Linked DNA regions of Homo sapiens. The protein of the gene in region 3 interacts with the protein of the main gene of each other region in a biochemical or structural test. Each region holds a gene or a part of one and is shown on either strand. Other genes may lie near its edges. The genes, in order: MYO1C, UBASH3A and RNF41.

Region 1 (2,652 bases), on a different chromosome or scaffold from region 3:
GCCTTTTTTTTTTTTTTTTTTTTTTTGAGACAGGGTCTCATTTTGTCACCCAGGCTGGAGTGCAGTGGTGAGATCTTGGGTCTCATTGCAGCCTCAACCTCCTGGGCTCAAGCAATCCTCTCATCTCAGGCTTCTGAGCAACTGGGACTACAGGCATACGCCACCACACCAGGCTAACTTTTTTGTATACAAATTCTGAGATGGAATTTTGCTCTTGTTGCCCAGGGTAGAGTGTAATGGCGCAATCTCGGCTCACCGCAACCTCCACCTCCCGGGTTTAAGCGATTCTCCTGCCTCAGCCTCCCAAGTAGCTGGGATTACAGGCATGCGCCACCACACTCGGCTAATTTTGTATTTTAGTAGAGATGGGGTTTCTCCAGTTGGTCAGGCTGGTTTCGAACTCCCAACCTCAGGTGATCCACTTGCCTTCGCCTCCCAAAGTGCTGGGATTACAGGCGTGAGCCACTGTGCCTGGCCTTTTTTTTTTTTTTTGAGATGACATCTCACTCTGTTCCCCAGGCCTGGAGTGCAGTGGCATGATATCAGCTCACTGCAATCTCCACCTCCTGGGTTCAAGCAATTCTCCCGCCTCAGCCCCCACTAGTAGCTGGTATTACAGGCGTGCACCACCACGCCCGGCTAATTTTTGTGTTATTAGTAGAGATGGGGTTTCACGATGTTGGCCAGGCTGGTCTCGAACTCCTGATCTCGGGTGATCCACACACCTCGGCCTCCCAAAGTGCTGGGATTAAAGGTGTGAGCCACTGCACCCAGCCTTTTGCATTTTTTTAGTAGATGGGTTTTGCCATGTTGGCCAGGCTGGTTTCAAACTCCTGGCCTCTGGTGATCCACCCGCCTCAGCCTCCCAAAGTGCTGGGATTATAGGCATGAGCCACCGTGCTGCCACCTTTACAACTTTCTGCACTGAGGGGCTCTCTCTGGCCCTCATGGGTGGGCCAAGGGATGGAAGAGGTGGTATGATGGCCTCTGGATGAAGGCCCATGGTGAGGTGCCTGGGCTCTGCCAAGCACAGCCAAGGAAGGCTTGGCTATCACAGCCAGGCCATAAGCGGGAAAGCAGGCCCCACTCACCACAGCCAGGTGCCCGTTCTTGGCCTTGGTGATGAGCAGCTCCGAGCCGGGTGTGAAGTCAATGGTGCCATCCCTGCCGGGGCCCCCTGCAAACGTGATGCTGGGGGAACGGGGTGGGTGAGGGTTTTTCCATGGAGGCAGACCCCCAACCCTAAGGTGGACCCCCACCCTGTCCCTGGGTGCCCACACAGCCCCCTCGCCACCCCCGCCCTGTCCCCGGGGGCCGCCCGCGCCTCACCTGCCCTGGTTGATGTTGATGCTGTTCACGCGGTTGGCACTGAGGGCTGTCTTGGTCAGCGTCTCAATCACGTGGTCACTCTGCAGCACCACATCTCCCTGGGGGGCCAGGCAGGAGGAGGGGTCAGGCCCTGCCCAGAACTTGAGGAACCCCCGCCCCACCTCCCCATCCACCTCCTGACCCCCAAATCCACCCCCATCCACCCTCCCACCTCCCCATCCACCTCCTGACCCCCCAATCTACCCCCATCCACCCTCCCACCTCCCCATCCACCCCCACACCCCCTATTCCCCCATCCACCCCACCTCCCCATCTACCTCCCCCATCCCCCACCACTCCTCCCCATCCATGAAAAGGCACCTTTTGCTTATTGTCCGCACGCTGTACATGAAGCACAAAAAGACTGTCGCTCAGGCTGCTGACAGAGATTCCTGAGGGGAGAGGGCAAAGGTCAGAGGTCGAGGGTCAGAGCAGGGCCCTCCCCCTGCAGCCCTGGACCCTGGCTGACCGGTCAGGTTGGCGTAATCAATCCTCTGCTTGACTTTGGCGTCCTCCACGATGACGACGGCGTTGGGCGTGAGCAGCAGCTGCCGGGAGCGAGGCTTGTAGCCCTTGCGGTCGTATTTCACAACAGGCACCGCATACTGGGGACAGAGGCCAGGCTGAAGGGGCTGGGGAGAGGCTCCCAAGGCTCCGCCCCTGCCCTGACCTGCCTTCAGCTCTCAGGCAGTAGCACCGTGCTGCTGGACTCAGGGCTGCAGGCAGGCTCTTACCTGAATGGGCTCAGAGCCCAAGGCCTGCAGCACTCGGGGGCTGATCTCATCTGTACCTGCAACTCAGATGGCGGGGAGGGAAGTCAGTGGAGGCAATGGGGGACCAGGATGGTGACGAAAGGTCTGAGTGCTGGAAAGTCAGGGGCTCACCAAGCCGAGTGCTGATGAAGAGCCTGGGTACACTCTGAGGGTAATTATCCTTCTTGCCCTTGAAGATCTCACTAGCCACGGCCTTCTGCTGCAGCTGAGGAGACAAGGGGGGTGAGGAGAGTGTCATGGTGGGGAGCACCATCTTGGGGGGGCAGAGCCAGCCTTAGGACCTGAGACAGCCTCCCTCACCCGCTTGCTGGTCCCTCTCTGGCTCAGCACCAGGAGGCTGAGCCCTGCCCCCCACACGCCCATCAACCCTCCACTTCCTGACCCTCTGCCGCCACCAAGCACTCCCCAGCGGGGTCATGAAGGCACTGCGGGGTTTTGAAACTGGCCTTGGTAATGCTTCCCCACCCCATCAGGCCCTGGTGGCCCTGAGACTCAGCTCCAGCTTGGGGTC
Region 2 (3,652 bases), on a different chromosome or scaffold from region 3:
CGTGACTTATTTCTGTATTTTCAGTATGAGCTTAGTGCTCTCTCCTTGGCCTCTCCAGGGAAAGATTATTTAGACTCATATTCAGAATCATCAAAATTCCCTTCTCTCCAAACACCAGCCCTGGCCTGGAGACCAAGGCTACCATTGGGGTTTAGTGGAAAGGATTGTGGACTTGACGTCAGAAGATGTGATTTTTTTCTGTGTCCCTGATGAGTGGCATGACCTTAATCAAGTCATGTCCACTCTCTCTGTCTCTTTTTCTTTCTCTACAAAACAATGAGGGCTCTCACTCTTCAAGAACAATGTTGCCTGAGTCTGTGGCCCATCCTGCCATAGTTCCCGGGACACAGAAGGCACTCAGTATTGCTGAGATTTGCCGACTCTAAAATCTGACGAGGCCGCAGTGCCTTGGTGGGAGGGCTCCCCACTTTCTCTCTCTGGGAGCGTGTCTGTCTGTGCTCAGACATGTATGAAGCACAGATCCTGGCCTGTAAATCCATCCCTGAATCCTGGGCTTCCACTTGGATGGCAGCTTGTGAGTCTGGAGATCGAATCTGCTGAATAATTAGAAAGTCGCCCCCGGTCTTTGTGGATTAGTATCCTTTATCAAATGATGGCTCTTTCACACCCAGGCCCTCCCCCAGTGAACCTCATTGGCAGCATCTTAAAAACAGGAAGACTGAGGCTGCAAAGGGTGAAGGGCCTGCCCAAGGTCCTGTGGTGTGTAGAGCGGTGTCCCCTAAAAATGTTTGTCCACCAGGAACTTGGGAATGTGACCTCACTTGGGAATAGGGCCTGTGCAGATGCGATTGGTTGGGAGGAGGTCACACTGCATTAGGGTGGGTTCCCGTAAGGGTAGAGGCCGCACAGAGACACAGAGAAGCCATGTGCCGACTGAGGCAGAGACTGGAGTGATGTAGCCACAAGCCAAGGGACGCCTGGGGCCACCGGAAACTGGAAGAAGCCAGGAAGGACCCTTCCCAGGAGCTTTCGGGGAGAGCACAGCCCTGCCAACACCTTGATTTTGAACCTCTAGTCTCCAGAAATGGGAGGCAATACATTTCTGTTGTTTGAAACCAATCTAGTCCCCTAACCAGGCTGGCGGAGCAGGGACCTGAACCCACCTCTGTCCTGCTCCATGCTGCCTGGGTTCATGCTGGGCAGCCCCACTTCCTGTGGGAGCCAGCGTTGACCTCACATCTACGCCCCGACCCTAAGCAGGCTGTGTCCTGCCCTTCCATGGCCCATGCTCTCAGCCTGACACCGAGGGGGTGGAGGGGACTCTCTCAGTGATGAGTGACCAGTCACTGCTCTGAAGTGGCCGAGGTCCCTCTTGGGGCAAATGCATGAGGCCCCCTTGCCCGCGTTGGTCCTCCCCAGTGAAACGTGCCCATAGGCACAGGTCCGCAGAGAGAAGGAAACGCAAGGACCCGTTCAGAAGTCGGTGTGACTCACTCTGACGTCAGCAACCTGCAGTGGGTCTTTCCCAGGCCACACTCACTCGCATGGCAAGGCGGTCCTCCCCGACTGCTAAAAACAAAAGTCAGGAAAGGAATTTCCCCACCACCTACACACTCATGCTGCTCCCCACCACCTACACACTCATGCTGCTCTGGGCTGTGCAGCCTCAGTGCCCCAGCTTTCCTAGAGACCGTGGGAGCTTCCCATTTGCCTCTAAAGGCTCACCTCTCACGTGGGAGACAGCAGTGAGCCCCAACTTCGGGGCTCCAGGGAAAGGCTTGCATCAACCTTGACCTTTTTTAGGGGGTGAGCAGATCCTGTTTGTAAGTGCCCTGCCGTGGAGTGGGGGCAGGGTACGTCTGTGCACCGACACGGCGTCTCTAGCAGGAAACTTTAGGTTAGGAGGCTGATTTCCCACTGCAGCCTTGGCGAGCAGGCGCTGCCGTCCTCCAGCAGATGCTGCTGAAGCAGAAATTGGGCAGGCCCAGAGGCTCAGTCAAGGTCACCCTGCAAAAGGGGGCAAAGTGCAGCCTAAAACTAGGTCTATCTGACACCAAAGTTTGTGTTGTTCCCGTCAAGACACAGACCGCCTCCCTAGGACATAAAATACTTTGTGGCTCAACTGAAATCAGATCCTGGCTGCTTTGGTGATGCCAGCTGCTCTGCTCAGACTGACCTGAGAGCCCCTGGCAGGACCAGGGAGGGCTAGGGCCACAGGGGCAGAGGACACCCAAAAAGACCTGAGGCTCAACCACTCCCAGGACTTCCTGCTTCACCAAAACAAGGTGAACCTTAAAGACACTGTGTGTTTTATAGTTTTGTTGCCTAAAGAGTTTTCTTCTTGAAACTCTACGATTAAACAAAAAGCCGTTGAACTGGAGCTCGGGCCTGCAAGTCCAGGCCACTGGGTAACGTGCACACCCCGGGGAATGGAGGAGCCGTTTACTCTGTGCATCTGAATCGTGCATTCGGGCAGCTAGCCTGCAAACCGATAGGCCCCCGAGACCCTGAACCCACATCTCCATATCGTCCTCTTTCCTACTTCCTGGAAAAATCTACAGGGATCCAGCCATCTCCTTTATGATGTGAGTTCTGAGCGGGCCAAATGAGCTCTGAGTTCTGAGAGCCCTTGCCTTGTGGAGGAAGCATGGAGGTCGGAGGAAGGAGACATTTAGGTAACGGTGTCCTGGCACCCTCTGTGTTTCCCTGATTTCACAGACTGCTCCGTGAAGCCTTGCACCAAACAGCTGCATCTGACCTTGGCCCACAAGTTCTACCCCCACCACCAGAGGACGCTGGAGCAGCTGGCCAGAGCCATCCCCCTGGGCCACAGCTGCCAGTGGACCGCAGCACTCTACTCCCGAGACATGCGCTTTGTGCACTACCAGGTGAGAGAGCTGAGCAGGGGCTCATAAGAAGCAGATGAATGGGCTGGGCTCGGTGGCTCACGCCTGTAATCCCAGCACTTTGGGAGGCCGAGGCGGCGGATCATGAGGTCAGGAGATGGAGACCATCCTGGCTAACATGGTGAAACCTCGTCTCTACTAAAAATACAAAAAATTAGCCAGGCACGGCGGCGGGCACCTGTAGTCCCAGCTACTCAGGAGGCTGAGGCAGGAGAATGGAGTGAACCCGGGAGGCGGAGCTTGCAGCGAGTGGAGGTAGCATCACTGCACTCCAGCCTGGGCTACAGAGCGAGACGTCTCAAAAAAAGAAGCAGATGAGTGAACGGCCACTCACCTGACAGCATGTACCCCCTGGAGCCCTCCAAGGGAGATATGTTAGTAGCAAGGAAAATTTCTATTGCTTCTCTAAAGCCATTCTCTTTCTTGTGCAATTTACAACCAGCATTCTTTTATATGTGAGTTAGAGATGCACAGACAACAAAATAGAAGCATTTCCAATATTAGAAAAGGAAGCTGGGTGTGGTGGCTCACACCTATAATCCCAGCACTTTGGGAGGCTGAGGCAGGTGGATCACTTCAGGTCAGGTGTTCGAGACCAGCCTGGGCAACAGGGCAAAACGCTGTCTCTACTAAAAATACAGAAAATTAGCCGGGCGTGATGGCACGAACCTGTAATCCCAGCTACTCGGGAGGCTGAGGCAGAAGAATCACTTGAACCTGGGAGGTGGAGGTTGCAGTGAGCAGAGATCGTACCGTTGCACTCCAGCCTGGGCAACAGAGCGAGA
Region 3 (3,652 bases):
GTGATAATAGTTCCATTTTAGAATCAGTATGTTAACAGGGGAGAAACTGGAGACCGGAAGAACATCTAAGTCAGGAGAGTGACGGTAAGAGTCTGAACTTAGGTGGTGGTGGTGATGGGGATAAAGAAGAGAAGAGAGGGCCGGGCATGGTGGCTCATGCCTGTAATCCCAGCACTTTGGGAGGCTGAGGCAGACGGATCATGAGGTCAAGAGATCAACACCATCCTGGCCAACATGGCGAAACCCCGTCTCTACTAAAAATACAAAAATTAGCCAGGCGTGGTGGTGCGCACCTGTAGTCCCAGCTACTCGGGAGGCTGAGGCAGGAGAATCGCTTGAACCCAGGAGGCGGAGGTTGCAGTGAGCCGAGATTGCACCACTGTATTCTAGCCCAGTGACAGAGCACGACTCTGTCTCAAAAAAAAAAAAAAAAAAAAAGAGAGGTCCAAAAGAGCAAGGACTCAAACAGCGGCAATGGCGCCATGCCCCTTCTTTGGGCTCCCAAAGGTCAAACCCAAAGAAGAGGTCAGTAAACAACTGGCTGGGCGCAGTGGCTCACGCCTGTAATCCTAGCACTTTGGGAGGCCGAGGTGGGTGGATCACCTGAGGTCAGGAGTTCAAGACCAGCCTGGCCAACATGGTGAAACCCCATCTCTACTAAAAATACAAAAATTAGCTGGGCATGGTGGTGGGCACCTGTAATCCTAGCTACTTGGGAGGGTGAGGCAGGAGAACTGCTTGAACCCAGGAGGTGAAGGTTGCAGTGAGCTGAGATCATGCCACTGCACTCCAGCCTAGGCGACAGAGCAAGACTCTGTCTCAAAAAAAAAAAAGAAGAAACACATAATCCTTGTCCTCAAACTAAGGTGTAGGCTTGAGCCCAATGAGTACATAGGAAAAAAAACACATAAAAACACATAAACGTATTAAGCAAATTATTAACAAGTAAAAGTCAATAATTTATGTAAGTTGTAAATATACAAAAAAGAACAAATGGTACAGATTAATCACAGAAAGCTTTCTGCAGAAAGAAGTTTTAAGAACTGGACTTTCAAGGGCAGAAGGAATCCCGAGCGACAGAGAAGAGGGTTGAGGCCTGGAATGGGATTCTGAATCAAAGCTCTTTACCTTCCAAGTGTTGGGGGGCAGGTTCCCTGTTCACAAGGCTCCAACCCCCTGATGCCTCCACTCAGTGCCACTGAAGAGATTCTCCCAGTAACCCATCTTGTTGGCTATTCTCCGACTGAGTATTCCTTCCCAGTGACAAGCTCCATCGCCCAGGGGATGAATGTGATGTCACAATCAGGAGTACTCTAGTAATAGGAACAAGGAAGAGAAAGGAGAGTCAGGAGAACTACCTCCACTTGGCAAGGAGACTGGACAGATGGATCTGGCAGTTGGTTGGGGAGGATGAGACAACTCCATTAAGCACTACAGTTTTCAGTGCTAGGCAAATAAGACTACCTTCTAAGGAGGGAGCTCACCAGCTAAGGAAGCACACACACGGGGTCCAGTAGATTTGAACATAGCTGGGAGGGGGAAAGAAAAGGACAAGAGAGGCCGGGCGTGGTGGCTCACGCCTGTAATCCCAGCTCTTAGGGAGGCCAAGGCGGGTGGATCACGAGGTCAGGAGATCAAGACCGTCCTGGCTAACACGGTGAAACCCCGTCTCTACTAAAAATACAAAAAATTAGCTGGGCGAGGTGGCAGGCGCCTGTAGTCCCAGCTACTCGGGAGGCTGAGGCAGGAGAATGGCGTGAACCTAGGAGCTGCAGCTTGCAGTGAGCCGAGACCGCGCCACCGCACTCCAGCCTGGGCGACACAGCAAGACTCCGTCTTAAAAAAAAAAAAAAAAAAGACAAGAGGAAAAGTAGAGGAGTTGTTGGAGATTTAAGATTCTTTTATTCAGTGCACATAACTACCAGTAATAATGATTCCAAATCTGTGACTACAAAATGCATAGATCCAGGTTGCGATGGCTCACGCCTGTGATCCCAGCACTTTGGGAGGCCGAGGCGGGTGGATCACCTGAGGTCAGGAGTCGGAGATGAGCCTGGCCAACATGGCGAAACCCCATCTCTACTAAAAATATAAAAATTAGCCGGGTATGGTGGCAGATGCCTGTAATCCCAGCTACTCAGGAGGCTGAGGCAGGGAGAATTGCTTGAACCCAGGAGGCGGAGGTTGCAGTGAGCCAAGATCGCGCCACTGCACTCCAGCCTAGGCGACAGAGCAAGACTCTGACTCAAAAAAAAAGCAAAATGCATAGATCCATAATACATTATGTGTACAGGATGATGCTTTAATGCAGAGGTCCCCAAATCCCCAGATGGACCAGTACCAGACTGTGGCCTATCAGGAACCGGGTCGTACAGCAGGAGGTGAGCAGGAAACAAGCGAGCATTAAGGCCTGTGCTCCATGTCCTGTCAGATCAGCAGCGGCATTTGATTCTCATTGGAGCATGAACCCTATTGTGAACTGCCCATGCGAGGGATCTAGGTTGCCCACTCCCTATGAGAATCTAATGCCTGATGATCTGAGGTGGTAGAGTTCCATCACAAAACCATCCCCTCGCCCACCATCTGTGGAAAAACTATCTTCCACAAAAAGGCTGGGGATGCTGCTTTAATGTTTCCAAAGTGCTTTCACATAAATTATTATTATTATTTCGAGATAGAGTCTCGCTCTGTCACCTAGGCTAGAGTGCAATGGCGCGATCTTGGCTCACTGAAGCCTTGGCCTCCCGAGTTCAAGTGATTCTCCTACCTCAGCCTCCAGAGTAGCTAGGATTACAGGCACCCACCACCATGCCCGGCTAATTTTTGTATTTTTAGTAGAGACGGGGTTTCACCATGTTGGCCAGGCTGGTCTCGAACTCCTGACCTCAGGTGATCCACCCGCCTCAGCCTCCCAAAATGCTGGGATTACAAGTGTGAGCCACCGCGCCTGGCCCACATAAATTATTATTATTTTTTTGAGATAGGGTCTTGCTCTATTGCCCAGGCTGGAGTACAGTGGCATGATCATAGCTCACTACAGCCTCGCCTTCCCAGCAGGCTCCAGCAATCCTCCCACCTCAGTCTCCCAAATAGCTGGGACCACAGGCACACACCACCATGCCTGGCTAATTTTTGTATTTTTGGTAGAGATGGGGTTTTGCCATGTTGCCCAGGCTGGTCTTGAACTCCTGGGCAGGCTCCAGCAATCCTCCCACCTCAGCCTCCCGAAGTGCTGGGATTACAGGCACCAGCCACTGCGCCCACCCCCAAATCTACACATTTAAACAAGTCAAGTAACCCTGCTGTAGTTTTTCTGTTGCTTCAACTGTCAAGTAGGGAAAATGATACCTGCCTTATATATTAATATAAGGTATATATAATATATACATATTTATTATATATATATATGTTATTTTTTTTTTGAGACAAAGTGTTGCTCTGTCGCCAGGCTGGAGTACAGTGGCACGATCTTGGCTCACTGCAACCTCTGCCTCCCGGGTTCAAGCGATTCTCCTGCCTCATCCTCCCAAGTAGCTGGGACTACAGGCATGTGCCACCATGCTGAGCTAATTTTTGTATTTTTAGTAGAGACGGGGTTTCACCATGTTGGCCAGGATGGTCTCAATCTCCTGACCTTGTGATCCGCCCGCCT

The links.
Region 1: the proteins of RNF41 (region 3) and MYO1C form a complex in vitro, tested with the Homo sapiens proteins (one study listed by BioGRID).
Region 2: the proteins of RNF41 (region 3) and UBASH3A form a complex in vitro, tested with the Homo sapiens proteins (one study listed by BioGRID).

What each region holds. Positions count from the first base shown.
Region 1 is NC_000017.11:1,466,151-1,468,802, forward strand, and holds part of MYO1C (unconventional myosin-Ic), read right to left. Parts: intron 2,347-2,652; coding exon 2,253-2,346; intron 2,159-2,252; coding exon 2,103-2,158; intron 1,974-2,102; coding exon 1,838-1,973; intron 1,761-1,837; coding exon 1,690-1,760; intron 1,428-1,689; coding exon 1,330-1,427; intron 1,192-1,329; coding exon 1,092-1,191; intron 1-1,091.
Region 2 is NC_000021.9:42,413,763-42,417,414, forward strand, and holds part of UBASH3A (ubiquitin-associated and SH3 domain-containing protein A), read left to right. Parts: exon of another isoform or gene 1-2,546; intron 2,547-2,679; coding exon 2,680-2,849; intron 2,850-3,652. UniProt on the Homo sapiens protein: Interferes with CBL-mediated down-regulation and degradation of receptor-type tyrosine kinases. Promotes accumulation of activated target receptors, such as T-cell receptors, EGFR and PDGFRB, on the cell surface.
Region 3 is NC_000012.12:56,215,301-56,218,952, forward strand, and holds part of RNF41 (E3 ubiquitin-protein ligase NRDP1), read right to left. Parts: intron 1,314-3,652; 5' UTR 1,129-1,313; intron 1-1,128. UniProt on the Homo sapiens protein: Acts as E3 ubiquitin-protein ligase and regulates the degradation of target proteins. Polyubiquitinates MYD88. Negatively regulates MYD88-dependent production of pro-inflammatory cytokines.